Linked DNA regions of Homo sapiens. The protein of the gene in region 1 interacts with the protein of each later gene in a biochemical or structural test. Each region holds a gene or a part of one and is shown on either strand. Other genes may lie near its edges.

Region 1 (7,827 bases):
GAGAATAATTGTAAGAGCAAAGTCCTTCTGTAGGCAAGCGGGGGTGGAATCTAGTATATAGGGAAGGCTTGGTCGTAGGCATGAAACCCTCCCAAGCCTCTCTACAGCTTTGAACCCCACCCGACAACCTGCGCTTCCCTCTTTCTGTGCCGTGTAGGTAACTTTTATTCATCAACAAAATCATCTGCTCCTTAATGGAAAGAATTATGTGTTAGCACCTTCTTTTTTTTTATCCCATGTTGCCTGATCTCAACCCCAACAGATGTAGTAGAAATTCATAAATGTTTAAGATCTGGGGGTTTTATTTTTTAGTCTGAAATCACCCTTTACCAATGCTTTGAAAGTTTTAATGGGTTGTCTCAAAGTCATGTAATTAGGACGATAAAGACAGCTTAAGTAAAGGAGAAATCTTACTGAATTTATGCCTGAGCAACAGTAGAGAAAGATTCCTTTTTTAAAACTTTATTTTTTAATAAATTTTATTTTTACTTTTATTTTCAATTTTTTTTGTCGAGACAAAATATACATATAAAATTTGCAGGCCATGGTCCATGTGTTCCAAAGTGGTGTCTTGGACGTTTATCAGAAACGACGCAGTGCAAAACTTGGTCACATCTTGAGGTCCACTCACCGTGGTGACCTAAGAAGGATTGGTCGATTGAGTCATTCTTTCCACGGGTACTTATTGACTCCCTACCATGTGCACTGTGAGGAATGCAAAAATGATTCGAACAGGGGCTCCATCCACAGGGGTTTATAGTCTGATGGGAGAATAAGGTATGATGAAGCTGCGTGGATGTGGAAATAAAACCACCAGAAAGTTCTTCTGAGACTGGAGTCCGGGAGTGGGGTCATGTGACTCCACATGGTAAAGATCAGAGAAGGGTTGATGGAGGAGGTAGGGTTTCATCTGAGCCTTTAAGGTGCATGGGCTTTGTACATGGAGAAACAAGGGCCCGTTCTCAGGTGGATGGAGCAGCCTGAAGCCGAGTACCATGGGATGCAGGTCAGTGGGCAGTTCTTGCTGAGCAGAGACATAGAGTGTGCTGAGGGGAAGTTGTCAGAAGTGAGTTTGGAAAGGAGGACCAAGCCACACTGCACAGAGCTTTGGGTGTCTAAAATGCTAAGGCTTATTCTCTGTTGAGCCTTTGAAAGTCTTCAAGCGGGAGCTTAACATAAGAACAAGTGGTTAGGAGGCTGATTTGGTGAATTTGGTTCTGTAAATGGAACAGGCAGGAGATAATGAGGCCTTGAGCAGGGAGAAACGGCAGTAGGGGAGAACTCTATGAGAAGCGGTAAATGGAGAACCACCAGGACTTAGTCTCTGATTAGATGTGTGTCCAGGAAGGAGGCGCTGATGATCAGGCAACTGACTGAGGTTGAGGAAACCCAGGCAGAAAGTAGATGAAGGCAAGACTGACAATGTTAGTGTGTTAGCGCTCTCCAGAGAAACAGAACAAATAGGATACATACAGATAGACAAGAGGGGGTTTATTATGGGAATTGGCCTCACGCAGTTACGGAGGCCGAGAAGTCCCCCAGTCTGCCACAGCAAGCTGTGTCCCGGGAAAGCCAGTGGTGTGATTCAGCCTGAGTCCCAAGGCTGAGAACCAGGGGAGCTGAAGGTGTAACTCTCAGTCTGAGGCCAAAAGCCGGAGAACCTGGAGCTCTGATGGGCAGGAGAAGATGAGTGTCCCAGCTCCAGAACAGGTGGATTCGGTCTTCCTCCACCTGTTTGCTCTATCCAGGCCCTCCGTGGATTGGATGGTGCCCACTCACACTGGGTGAGAGCGGATCTTCTTTACTCAGCTCACTGATTCAAATGCCAGTCCATTCTGGAAACCCCCTCATAGATTTACCCGGAAATAAAGTTGTACAAGCTGTCTAGGTGTCCTTGAACCCAGTCAAGTTGGCATATAAAATTAACCATCGCAGTTACTTTTGTGAAACACTGAGTTTGAGGCCCTGGGAAGATAGCAAATAGGATGTCCAACAGTCTGTAGGACACATACACTGAGAGCATGGAGGCAGGCCAGAGACCTATCTCCCTCTGGAAGAGGTGATGGCCACTGGACTGGGAAAGGTTGCTGGGAGGCTAAGCAGAGACAAGGGGAGAACGGAAGGAAGAACGTGAGTGAGATCCCTACATGATGTCAGCTGCTCAATCTTTCTTTTTGGTTCTAGCAGCAATCCTGGGAAAAGTGACCCTGTGTTGGAATAAAGGGTGAGGGAATACAGGAGGCAAAAGAAGAGGGTGTCCAAGGGTTTGTACCCAAACCAGGGGAAACAACCAGAAACAGGAAATAGGAACCAAGCTAATTTTCCATAGTAAAAAACAAATTTTTTTTTGTTAATTCTCTTAAATCCAAAGCAGGCAACTTCACTCTTTTCAGTGTTAGGCCCAGAGTTGACATTCAATACTTACTGAAATGGAGTCTTGTTTTATAGACTCCATTTATGGAGCCAGGAGTGAGTGATTTAGTGTTCCAATTGTTAAATTAATTGCCAGGATGCTGAAGCTTACACTAGAGGCTAAGGTGCTATGGGCAGACTTCATATGCCCCATGGAAGTCTGCTGTTGTTAAAATGACTGTTGAAATCTAAGCCAAATACTTGGCTCACTTAGTGCTTAAGGTAATTGATGCAGCTGATACCAGGCCCCGCCAGTGTGTGGTGGCTTGGCAGAGTCAAGATGGTATGTTAATGTAACCAATCTGTTTCCATTTCCACTTGAATCTTTAGTTTATTTTGAATGTGAGGTTGGATTATAGGATCTCCTGCCTCCTGTGTATATTTAAGCGAGAGTTTGATGAAAGCAATTCCCAGACTTCAGAAACATCCTCCGGAAACAGCAGCCAAGAAGGGCCAAGTAATGTACCAGGTTAGTGATTCAGAATGGAATTTCAGCCATAGAATGGGACCTGGCTCTAAGGAAAATGGGGAGAGCAAACAGTATCTTCTAGAAAAAGGGTGAAAATGGTTTTGAGGATTATTGCACCAGGGCATCATCCTGGCAGTTACTCTTTTTGAGCAAGTGAATAATTGATAGAGCCCAGATTCCTTCTGGGTTGGATCTTGTTTCCTTCCATCTGGGAGTGTCTTAGTGATGAGACAGTTGAGGTTTCCAGCATTGTGGCTACCCACCTCCCCCGCAAAAATACCAAAATAAAAACAGTAACAAAAAACTCTCCAGGAGACTTCTTGACCACTAGCAGCTTTTACTCACTTTGGAAGTTTTTCCCTGCCCAGGAACTAGTGGTGACGGGAGATGGTAGGAGTAGAAATAATCCCATCTACCAAGCCCAAGCTTCCATGAGTGAGATCATTGCTGTCCTTTACCAGGGGACCATGCAGTGAGGGAGGAAGGGGCAGGAATGTGGAATATGTGGTTAATGTCATCTGGGTTAGTCACTCTGCATAGCTTTGCAATATAATGTTCTGGGAGATTTGGGGTTAACTCAACAGCTTTACCCTGCAAAACTTATGGATGAGTTCACCAGCAGCATGTTTGCAGACCTTCCTGCATCTGAAGTGGTATGTTCTAACTTTTCAGGTGCTCTTGACTTTGAACACATTGAAGAACAAGCAGAAGGCATCTTTGGAGGAAGGAAAGTATATTTTCAGTTACTGTTTTGTAGGGAAGGCTGCTCTTCCAGAGCTCTCAGAGGCCTTCCCTTTATTATGTTAGTAAATATTTAGTCTCTGGGCTTAGGTTGTTTTGGTGCTATCTTTGGAACTGTTAGTACTCAAGTCAGAGTTAACTTGGTTGGCTTGATTGGGAGGAGAGAGAGAGTGAGAGAGAGAGAGAGAGAAAGTGTGTGTGTGTGTGTGTGTGTGTGTGTGTGTGTCCCACCTAGGACAGAAAGGATTTAAGGAGATTTCTCAAAATACCTACATTACAAGATTATTTTTACATAGTGAGGAAATGCAATCAAAAGAAGAATAGAAAGAGAGAGGGGCTCAAAACAGAGTGAAGTTAGTAAGATCATGTCCTGCTGCTGCTGCTGGGCTACAATTTTATCCCTGAGCTCCTTACAGGCTATGCAACAAAGAAAGCAAAATCTGGTCTTTCATTGTTCCTAATATTAATGTATGAACCCCTTTAAAAAAAAACCGCACTGGTCAATTTTGACTTAAGACATTATTATAATTATGGAACTCTTATACCTCCAAGTATAAAATTTGGTATAAACACCATATGCACATAGTTCTTATAATTAGCACACTTGGTTTGATTATTGCTTTATAACATATTACTCCAAAAAACTTAAGGATTCAAACCACCACCATTTTATTAATACTTCTTACAGTCCTGTGGCTTGATTAAGCTGGATGGTTCTTCTGCTGGTGGTCACTGTTGGGTCTGTCATACTGTAGTGAGGTGGTAACTGGGGCTGGCACCTCCAAGTTGGATTATTCACATTTCTGGCACTATAGCAGAGATGCCTGCAAGGCCAGAACTTCTTTCTCTCTCTGTCCATGTGGATAGCTTGGGCTTCTTTACAGCACGGTGGCTGACTCAAAAAGCAAATGTTCTAAGAGGACAAGCCAACAGTATGCAAGTGCTAATTGGGCCTCTGCTTGCATTGCATCTCCTAATATCTTATTGTTCAAGCAAATCCCATGGCCAAGCTCATTGTCAGTGTGGGAGGGGACTACATAAGGGTTTGAACACTCTGTTGGGGCCCACCAGTGTTAATAGTCTACCTCAATGCTTAATATAAAACCTGTGAAATTTGAATTAGCAACATTATGTACTATGATGGAAGATGTTTTTCTGAAACTTAAACATGGTATTGTGAGTTTAGCATAATACAGGTTCCATGTGCTGTGTGATCACTCAGCTCTCCCGCCATTTTCCTCATAGTGAACAGCATTGAAACCTTCACACCTTTTTGGAATACATAGCATGAATACAGTATTTATAAGTCTTCTCTGTGCTTTTCTTATTAGCCAGCAACCAGGAAGTTTCCACCATTTGTCATTCATTTGACTCTAAACCCAATATAGGTGCAGACCCAATAATTGACTAGCAGTGCTCAGTTATGGAGTAGTCTGCCATTTGATCTAGGATATGCTTATTAATATTTAAATATAGTCAGGCATGGTAGTGCATTCCTATAGTCCCAGCTACTCAGTATGCTAAGGCAGGAGGATCATTTGAGCATAGGAGTTTGAATTCAGCCTGGGCAACATAGCAAGACCTCATCTCTAAAAACTAAATACATAAACTAATAACTTAGGAGAAACACATCCTCTTGCAGTTCTCAGACCACAGACGAAGCCCAGCAGAAGAACACCCTATGTAGATGTTGAGAATCTAATGCTAGTCTTGTCACTTTGGCTTAAAATTTGACTTATCTTTTAATATGACATCTTCCTTGTCCCCTCACCTCATAATATAGTTGAAGATGAAGCAAGGCTGTATTGTTAAAGGAGCTAATGAAAAGTGAAATTGCATGTCTGGAGATCACAGTGCTAGAAATGCAACTAGGTTAGGTGCATCTGGGCCCAAGGGGCGTGAGAGGAGGCATTTGTCATTCATTTGGCCTTTCCCCACCTTGTGCTCCTTTAGTGAGGAGAACACCCCACTGGACTTGGATGACCACGGCGGCAGAACCTTTCTCCGTGTCCTGCTCCACTTGACGATGCATGACTACCCACCCCTGGTGTCAGGGGCCCTGCAGCTCCTCTTCCGGCACTTCAGCCAGAGGCAGGAGGTGCTCCAGGCCTTCAAACAGGTAGCTCAGGTCACCCACGTGTGTGTTGTCTGTCCAAGAAGCTGTTGTGTGCACCTAACGGATTGCGTTCATTAAGGTTCAACTGCTGGTTACCAGCCAAGATGTGGACAACTACAAACAGATCAAACAAGACTTGGATCAACTGAGGTCCATCGTGGAAAAGTCAGAGCTTTGGGTGTACAAAGGGCAGGGCCCCGATGAGACTATGGATGGTGCATCTGGAGAAAATGAACATAAGAAAACGGAGGTGAGTGAAACACAAGTTATGCTGCCAAAGTGGATGGATGGGCTTCTCGAAACTAGGGAGCATCCTCTTCTGGTTTTAGGTATAAATGTGATAGGATTTATTTTCAAGAGATCTGCTTGTTAAGTCACCAAGATCACAAGCTGTTTGCCTAGGAAATAAGCTACGAATCAAAGTTTAGCTATGTCTCCTGTGCAGCCTTGGACCATGTAGAAGAGACTGCGATATTGAGTGAATTAGCACCAGGTTTCCCTTACAGACCCACTTGGGAATTGACCTGTTCTCTAGGCATGGCCCAGCCCACTACTATCCCTTCCCAAGGAAACCCATAGCAAGTAGGTAGATGACTGGGGCATAAGCCCAGCATGACTATTGTAAAACAGTATAGAACTCCCTTTCTTTCCTAAAGGTCGATGCTAACTGTAAAAAACTGACAGTAGCCCAAGAGTTGTACAGATCACACTTGTGTTCACTTTGGTTTCTAGGAGGGAAATAACAAGCCACAAAAGCATGAAAGCACCAGCAGCTACAACTACAGAGTGGTCAAAGAGGTAAGCTCCTCCCCCACCACCATTTTTCCTTTCTTTATGAATTCTCTAAGGAGCTTTAGTTTGTGATAGTCAAGTTGAAGGTACACACATTTGAGCTTTTTTCTTCATGTGGTTTAACAGGGAGAAAGTAGAGCTCAGAGGTTAAGCTCATGGGTTTTGGCATCAGATCTGGGCTCCACACCCAGCTCTTCTACTTATTATTTTTGTCCTCAGCTTCCTCACCTTTTGTAGGTGCAACCTTTCGTAGGCACCGCATATTTCTGAAGCTTTACAATTGAAGGAAGGACTAATTGAGAATACTGTCAGGGAGTCATCTAAGTGCCTGGTACACAGTGTCCCCACTGAGAGCTGTAGTTTTTTAGAAACCTTTGCGTACGCTGGTTCAAAGTTGGGAGGCTGGGAGCTTTGTGTGTTTTACCCCAGAGCAAACTCTTCCCAGGGTCTCGGCAATGATGCCAGGTCATTCCATTTTAAGCGATATCTCTGAAACTGTCCCACTTGTTGTTGAAGCCATAATCCCCTGCTTATTCTGGAAGACGTGACCTTAGTCTTATGGATTTGGCTTGATGGAGTCAACAGAAATGCCACATACTGAAGGAATTTTGTTTTACGTTTTTAATGCATTATAATCCCCTTTGCCTCCCTGCCCGCCACCACCCTCTGCAATCTTTTTCCAGCTATAGTTCCTAGTTTTCTGAGACTGATTTCTTTCATTCTACTAGATTTTGATTCGGCTTAGCAAACTCTGTGTTCAAGAGAGTGCCTCAGTGAGAAAGAGCAGGAAGCAGCAACAGCGTCTGCTCCGGAACATGGGCGCGCACGCCGTGGTGCTGGAGCTGCTGCAGATTCCCTATGAGAAGGTGAGCGGTGCCTCATGCACAGCAGCTGCTCTCAGGATGGGGCGGATCCCTGGGTTTCCCCAAACTCTTCACATCTGGATATTGTTAGTGAAGAAATGCATCCAGTGTGACTATTGTGACTACAAAGCAATTTCAGGTATTGATATGAAACAGAGCATCTGAAAAATAAAGTAAAATCACCCGTGAATAATCCTCATCCCCAGTTTTAAGATTCTGTAAAGAAAGAGAGTCCATTTATTCTCCATACTCCCAAGACATATTGGATAGAGACAACTTGGTCTGTGTCAGAGCTTAGAGCTATATCTACCCATGAGTTGGTGTGTTTCAATTTCATTTGCAATGTGACTCAACCAATTTAAGTATCACCAGCTATTAAGTGCATGTAGGAACATGGGATGTGCCCACTTTTGAAGTCCTCAGTAAGACGCTGA
Region 2 (7,827 bases), on another chromosome or scaffold:
GTATTTCAATGCATGCCAGATATGCTCCCTCCCCTGAGAAACAAGAGGATCAATTCTGCAGGAGACGAGAAGGGTCCACACTGAGGCTCACACGCTCCCCAAGTCCCCTCCTATGTGCTCCTTGGTCACTGGGACATGACTGGTGCTGCTTCACGGGGACAACATGGTAAGTTACTAAAGAGGTATGCATGCATGTCACTTTTTCTGGGCCTGAGGGTGTCTGTTCTTATGAAAGCCACCAAAACTTGGAATTAAAGGCTACTCTGATAGGAAAATATAATCATAGTTTTTCTTCAATACTGCATAAAATTAAAATACCTACTTGACCTGTAATTAACAGAGCTCAAGAATGTGTCATAAATTTTATCAAGATGAAGTACATACGCTTTTATTACTAAATTACCAGGATCACAATAAGTGTACCTTTGGTACGCTAGGTTTAAGTAGCTGTGCACCTCATTTTCCTTACTTAATCTGGACATACCCTCATGAAGACAGACTTGTTCCTGTCCTCTTTGGCTACTGAAATGCAGCTCTAATGACTCTGTCACTAAGAGGCTGAGTGGGCCGAAAGTTGTCTCCCAAAATCCCATCACAGCCTTCCACAAGTTCTGCCCCCTTAACATGTGTCCTCAGCCTTCGAAATTCTTCTATCTGAAAATAAAAGCAGAAGAAAATAGATTAATCAATTATCGGACATTAACAAGATTGGAGTTTCATAAATGACATGCATAAAATATGTATAAATTACAAGAATTATTGAAGAGAAAATTAAAATTAAGCTTCAAAAAGAAAAAAAACAGACTTAATTCTTCCAGACCTAAGACGTTAGAGAGGACCCTTTCAAGAAATGACAACAGAAGTAGACATATCAAGATCTCTGAACAACTCAAATAGATAAAGAAATCTGCTCCATTTGTTAATGTAAAAATGATACAGGCCGGGCACAGTGGCTCACGCCTGTAATCCCATCACTTTGGGTGGCCAAGGTGGGCAGGTCACAAGGTCAAGAGTTCAACAGCAGCCTGATCAACACGGTGAAACCCTGTCTCTACTAAAAATACAAAAATCAGCCAGGCTTGGTGGTGCACACCTGTAATCCCAGCTACTCAGGAGGCTGAGGCAGGAGAAATCACTTGAACCCATGAGGCGGAGGTTGCAGTGAGCCGAGATCACACCGTTGCACTCCAGCCTGAGTGACAGAGCCAGACTCCATCTCCAAAAAACAATGATACAAACCTCTCCCAAAAAGGTTTTATGCCTATCTATAGCATAATAAGAAAAAGTGAACAAATGAATGTGCTCTTAAATGCTTTCCAAGTACATTTTAATTAATGGATTCTTATGTTACTGTATGTAAACACTGATTAGATCTTAGATTTATCAGATAGATTCAAGGTTTCCTTTCATCAAAAGACTTTTGCCACTTTTCTAGCCCTCTGGAGAGCACAGGTCCAAAAAAATGATTTTTCAAAAGTCTGAGCCCAAATTCCTGTCTTTACAATATTGATTTTCAAGTTCATTTCCCTTTATTAGGTGGGCTCTCCAGGTCCCATGGCTTCCCCACTGTAAGTGAAAAGGTTCTCAGAGTCCTCAGGGACATTGCCCATCAGCCACCCTACAGTTTCTCTAAGAACCCAGAGCCTGCCAGACGTGACTCTCTGGGGAATACTAATGTTTAAGCAACAAGCAAAAGTGATGAGCATTCCCCAGGATTATTCCCATCTATCAATTTAACTACAGGGTTCATTGTCTGTTAATTCACTTAAGTGCCACACAGTCACATGACACATTCTTCATTCCATATACAGAAGGGGAAACTGAGGCTGGAAGTTTTGAAAATTACCAGATTAGCTAGTGGGTAAGTCTGACAATTCCAAGTCTACCTGCTCTTTTCTCAGCTCCACAGTCATCTCTTTAGGAATTCTAGTCAATTCAATATAATCTATCTCCTTCACATACCCCAGGGTATTGAGCAAACGTGATTTGGGCAGCATCAATCCACCAAAAGTTCACCATCTGTGTATCAAGGGATTATATCCACAAAGATCCTTAATATGACATAGCTATAGAATTCTGCCATTCATAAAGAGAAATGAAACACAAGACAGCAACTAATTCAGGGGTTTCAACAAAGTCAAGAGACACCTATAGAGACTTTAGGGGGCCCACGAAAGCCCTGAATGATATGCAAATTTTTACATGTGCATTTTCCTCAGGAGAGGCTCCCTGACTCCAAGAGTTGAATCCCACAACATTCTAATTCAACACACTCATACATAGAGTTGGAAAAAAATTAAACGGATAGTTCAATTAGAATCCGGGTCAGAAAGCCAGCTTCTTTTCTGTGGGTTTTTTTTTTTTCTCTCTGTACTTACATGCGCTTCGAATGTCTTATTTTTCCATGTCACTGAATACTGGTTGATTTCCCTTAATGAGATTAAGTCTGACCCAACTGGGATTGTCCTGTTTAGTTTTTTATTGTACCTATATGCTGTATTTACATAGAGAAGCCAGTCAGATAAGCAATCAGCTGTTTAATCTACTTGATGGTTTTTCGCTAGATCTTCTTCAGCTATTAGAATGAAAATACGAGTAGCATCTATTGCTTGTTGCATCTGAAAAACTTCTAGAGACGAAGCTGCATGAGAATCCCTTATTATTTGCTTTCACCTTAAAGTTTTCCCTAAGTACAGAGTGAAAAGGAACCTGGTCAGTGAGAGAATCTTATGCTTTTTCAAAAAGAAGAATATCACAGTGAGGGCAGTGGACTCTGCACCCAAAGGCCAATTCTTGTCGTGCTCTGCCACCTAAGACCCAAAAGATCAAATGACTTCACCTCTTCAAACCTCAGTTTCCACATGTGTATAACAGACATAATAATAACAGTATTCACAAGGATAGCCTAGGAAATAAGAAAGAACATTCATGAAAATCACTCAGCATAGTTCCAAGCACATAGGAAGTGTCTGACAAATACTAGCACTTCTATTGCACAACTTCTTTTGAAGTGAAACCTTCAGCACTTTGAGATAAATATTTAGCTACAGTTGTATATGCAGAAAGTATTTATAATAAACCAATAATTTCACTGAGGAAATTTAAAGTCATCTCTCCTAGCATTCGCTTTCCATGTAATCATACTTAATACCTGCAACCTGAACCTATGAAGCATGCACAGGTCACTGAGGAGCAATGTGGGCTGGGAACTTTACTGCCTCAACATATGAAAGAATCCATTTTTTATTGACTTTGAAGATTATTTTAAAGCTGGGTTAATTTTATATTTATGCATTCTGAACTGGAGATAAACCTTTCAAGCCCCAGGCCTCACCCTGAAGCACATTCTGTGAAAACAACTTCTTCCAGAAGAGATGATCTGAATCAACAGCCAGCCAGTCTCAAATCACTGTACTCTCAGAGAAAACTATTTCACAAGAAATGTTTTTCTCTGATCACAGCAACACTTTGAAGACTTCCAACATCAACAGAGATGGAGGGGAAAATGTGTCTTTCTGAAATGCCAATTTTTCTAAAGCAACCACCCCCAAAACCCTTTAGTCACTTCAAATGGTTTCAAGTGCATACTGAATCAGCCACACTGAAATGAGAGATTGTGATAAATGAACAGAATAATAGAATAATATTTCAGGATAGAAATCTTTAATGAAACTCAAATGTCAAGGCCTTCCAGAGACCATTATTATCACATATATCTGAATGTATGACTGCATCTATTGTTAATGCTACTCCACTTAAACATAGTATGTGTTATTTGTTTTTAACCAATTTAAGAGAAAACTGAATGCGGGGCACCAACATTGAACATTTCATGGAGAAGTCGCCATCTTCTGAAGGTACTAGATTCAACAGCCACTGTTCTTTGAACGACAGGTGCACTCCAATTGGTCTAAGACATTTATTCCAATCTTCACTGCCTCAAAAACCAAATTATCCACTAAAAGTTCAGCTTTAAAACTGCTTCTTTATTAATGCATTCAAAGGGCTAATTTCCAGGGTTTGCAGTTTAGGGCTACTTAACTTTCAGGAGTTCCCAAGTTCTAATAGATTTATTTTCACTTGCATTTCATGTGTCATCATGTTAAAAGAGAAATACAACACATAAAAGTCAGTATGCTCTATCCATTAACCCATCTATGGACATTTATGTGGTTTCCCTGTCTTGGCTTAATGAACATGGGAGTGCAGGTATCTCTTCAAGATACTGACTTCAATTTCTTTCAATCTATATCCAGAAGTGGAAATCAACAAGACATGGAAACACAAGTATTGTATGAACTCACTTATATGTGGAATCTAAAACAATCAAACTCTTAGAAGCAGAGAGAAGAATGGCAGCTGCCAAGAGCTGGCAGGAAGCAGAAATGGGGATGTAATGGTTAAAGGGTACAAAATTTCAGTTATGCAAGATAAATAAGTCCTCGAGGTCTCCTATACAGCACAGTACCTATAGTTAACAATACTGCATTGTACACTTTAAAATGCTAAGATGGTAGATCTTATGTTAAGCGTTCTGACCCAGTAAAATATTTTAACAACAAAGGACATGGGAGGAAACTTTGGGAGGTGACAGATATTTTATGACCTTGATAAAATGGTTCTTTATAAAAGTTAGTGCTCTCACTTTCTTTTATTATCAATAACAAGAGTCAGAATAACACAATTCCAAATGGTACTAATCAAATTAAAAAGTCAAAAGCAAATTGTACTTAAACAGTCCATATATGTATACAGAGACAGATATAGACAGAGAGGACTCTCCACCTTTCATGTACTGCAGCCTTGTTTTTGCCTCATTTCTCTTCTACCCCATTATATAATGTTCTATCTAAAACCAATGCTCCCTCTTCCTTACCAACCTCTCATTCATAAACCAACTCTCACTCTGTCATGACTCTTTAATCGATCTTTTCAATTTTTTTGAGGAAGAGAGTAGGAAGAACATTCACTCCCTGGTAACACCGACGTCAACGGTCCTGAAGCCATCCCCAGCCTAAAGGAGCCTCAGCCTTGGCCGTTGTCGGCCCTCATCACCTCAAGAGAGTTTCTGAGCCACACAGATTTAAACATACTAAAGAATTACAGATTAGAGAGCTCACAACCACAGGGAAAGTGCTGCCTATCACTTAAGACACTGAGAAAATACATATAAAAATCTCTACAAGCAATTAAAAATAACACATTTTAAGAAAGGGAAGAAAGAGTCTCCCCAGAGAGAAGATCCTTGATTTGCACTGTCCAGGATGGCAGCCACCAGGCCCACATGGCCACCAAGCACTCGAAATTTGGCTTGTCCAATCTGAGATGTGCTGGAAGTGCAGAATACACACTGCAAGGCAAAGACTCAGTATGAAAATAAGGAGAGAAATCTCATCAATAACTTTTTACCTTGACTACATGCTAAAATGATAGTATTTTGCACGTATTGGGTTAAATACACTATTTGAATTAATTTCTTAATTTCACCTGTTTCTTTTGACTTTTTTTTTTTTTTACCATGGCTACTAGAAAGTTTAATATGTGGATCACATCATGTTCCCACTGGACAGGGCTGGCCTAGCGCTGCCCTTCACACGCACCTTCAGGACCTCGGCATTCTCGGGTTATAGCGCTGATCTCAATTACATGTAAAGACGAATGCAGGTACATATGAAACAGTGGTTCTCAAAGTATCCTCCCAGAATAAAAGTTTAAGTTGTCAGCAACTACCCCAGACCTACTGAATCAGCAACACAGGGGTGGAACGCAGCAATCTGTGCTTCAACAAGCCTTCCAGGGGATCTGACACATGCTCAAGTCTGAAAACCATGGCTGTCTTCGTCTGTTTTGTGCTGTTATAACAGAATACCTGAGACTGGATGATATATAAAGAACAGAAATGTATTTTCTCACAGTTCTGGAGGCTGGAAGTCCAAGATCAAGACATTTGGCATTTGGTGAGGGCATTATTCATTCGTCCTCATGTAGCAGAAGGCAGAAGGACAAGCAAGCCAACAAGAAAATGCTGTGTGAAGCCTCTTTCTTAAGGGCCTTAATCCATTAACAAGGGAAGGACCCTCATGGCCTAAACACCTCTTAAAGGTCCCATGTCTTAATACATCACATTGGCAACACCTGAATGTCAGAGGGGACCCATTCAGGTGGGTCCTGAAGAAAGGACAGAGAAGAAAATCTCCAACAAATGTTCCCAGTCATTGAAAATCTATAACAAATGTTCCCAATCATTTGAAGTGATTGTCAAACATAACCATGCTGTGGCCCTACGGCAACCTGGACTTTAGGGAAACAGCCCCTTCGATTCCATATGGAGCATGAAGACCCCTGAGAAAGACTTGCTGCTTCATGAATGGGGTCAGACTTCCTCAATTGTCCAGGGCCAGATGTGCTTCCAGATCCCACAGGCTGAGCACATGCCAGGCACTAACTCGGGCTGTCAGGATGTAAAGAGTCCTACTTTCCAACCCACAGGAAACATGGAATGCAGAGGGAATGAAGAGGAGGAAAGACAGAAGAAAAGAACATTTAAAGCAGTTTTCAATATTCTAGAAGACGTATCATGTATCCACAGGGTGAAAAAACAACAAACACATTCATATTCCTTCATTTCACTGGTGTTATTTTAAGTTGAAAGAGACAGGAAAAAACAGACATTTAATATGAAAATGTAGATAAGCTAAGAAATAGATAAGTAGGGAGGGAATGCAGAAAAAGGAGGAAGAAAAGGGCAGGAAAAGGACAGCAAAACTTAATTATCAACCCATTTCTGTATGTGTACATACGTATTTGCACAGATGGCACTATACCATAATACCCTGTTCTATCAATTCTAAGATTAATATGTATTCACATTTTAATGACTCTGTGAAATCAGAATATGTCTTAAAATTTCTGTTGTTAGATTTGGTAATGTTTTGGTATTTGTATTCTGTTCTTGGAATCTCATTTCTAAACACGACAATCCAGCTGATTGGCTTCCGAATGCTTAGACGGTTGTTTATATTACAGTTATTTAATGGTTAAAATGTCCATAATCAATGAGTGGATAAAAACACTGTCGTGTGTGTGTGTGTATACACACACACACACACACACACACACCGGATCCCCACTTTGGGGACTCAGGGGGAAAGGGTGGGAAGGGGGTGAGGGATAAAAGACTACAAGTTGGGTTCAGTGTATACTGCTTGGGTGATGGGTCCACCAAAATCTCACAAATCACCACTAAAGAACTTACTCGTGTAACCAAATACCACCTGTTCCCTAAACACCTATGGAAATAAAAAAATTTTAATAAAGTTATGTAATGGTTAGAGGTAATTTTTAAAAAAGAAATATATACTCATTCAGATCCGTTCAATTGTGTTTTTTCTCCCTACATAAGGCATGCTAACCAGGAATAATATGAAAAATTCAGCTAAGAAGGGGCTTCCAATTTTAGAATTCCTATTCTAGAATTCCTATTAATAGTACTCAGGACAATGTATGATGGGCTTAACAGTCCACACTACACTTCAGCTGAAGTCTACACCTCCCTGAATCACAGCTACTATGCATTTAATAGGAAACCATTATGATTTAGAACTTCAATGTTGCTAGTGCCAATACTATTATCCTATGGCAGGTGATGCATGTCAAGATACCAATTCTTTCCACAATAATATTCAGCAGCTTAATTACATACATAAACCTTATGGTATAGAAGAAAACACTGCTCTTTAATTTAATGCAAAATTTTTAATTTCTCAATATAATCAGCTATGTGGAAACTACCTGCCATTCATTGTTCCTTTTGCTATGTTATATGTC

What was found.
Region 2: the proteins of ITPR1 (region 1) and CA8 form a complex in vitro, tested with the Homo sapiens proteins (one study listed by BioGRID).

What each region holds. Positions count from the first base shown.
Region 1 is NC_000003.12:4,677,811-4,685,637, forward strand, and holds part of ITPR1 (inositol 1,4,5-trisphosphate-gated calcium channel ITPR1), read left to right. Parts: intron 1-2,742; coding exon 2,743-2,881; intron 2,882-3,553; coding exon 3,554-3,608; intron 3,609-5,575; coding exon 5,576-5,741; intron 5,742-5,817; coding exon 5,818-5,988; intron 5,989-6,470; coding exon 6,471-6,536; intron 6,537-7,258; coding exon 7,259-7,396; intron 7,397-7,827. UniProt on the Homo sapiens protein: Inositol 1,4,5-trisphosphate-gated calcium channel that, upon inositol 1,4,5-trisphosphate binding, mediates calcium release from the endoplasmic reticulum (ER).
Region 2 is NC_000008.11:60,208,266-60,216,092, forward strand, and holds part of CA8 (carbonic anhydrase-related protein), read right to left. Parts: intron 655-7,827; coding exon 520-654; 3' UTR 485-519; exon of another isoform or gene 1-484. UniProt on the Homo sapiens protein: Does not have a carbonic anhydrase catalytic activity.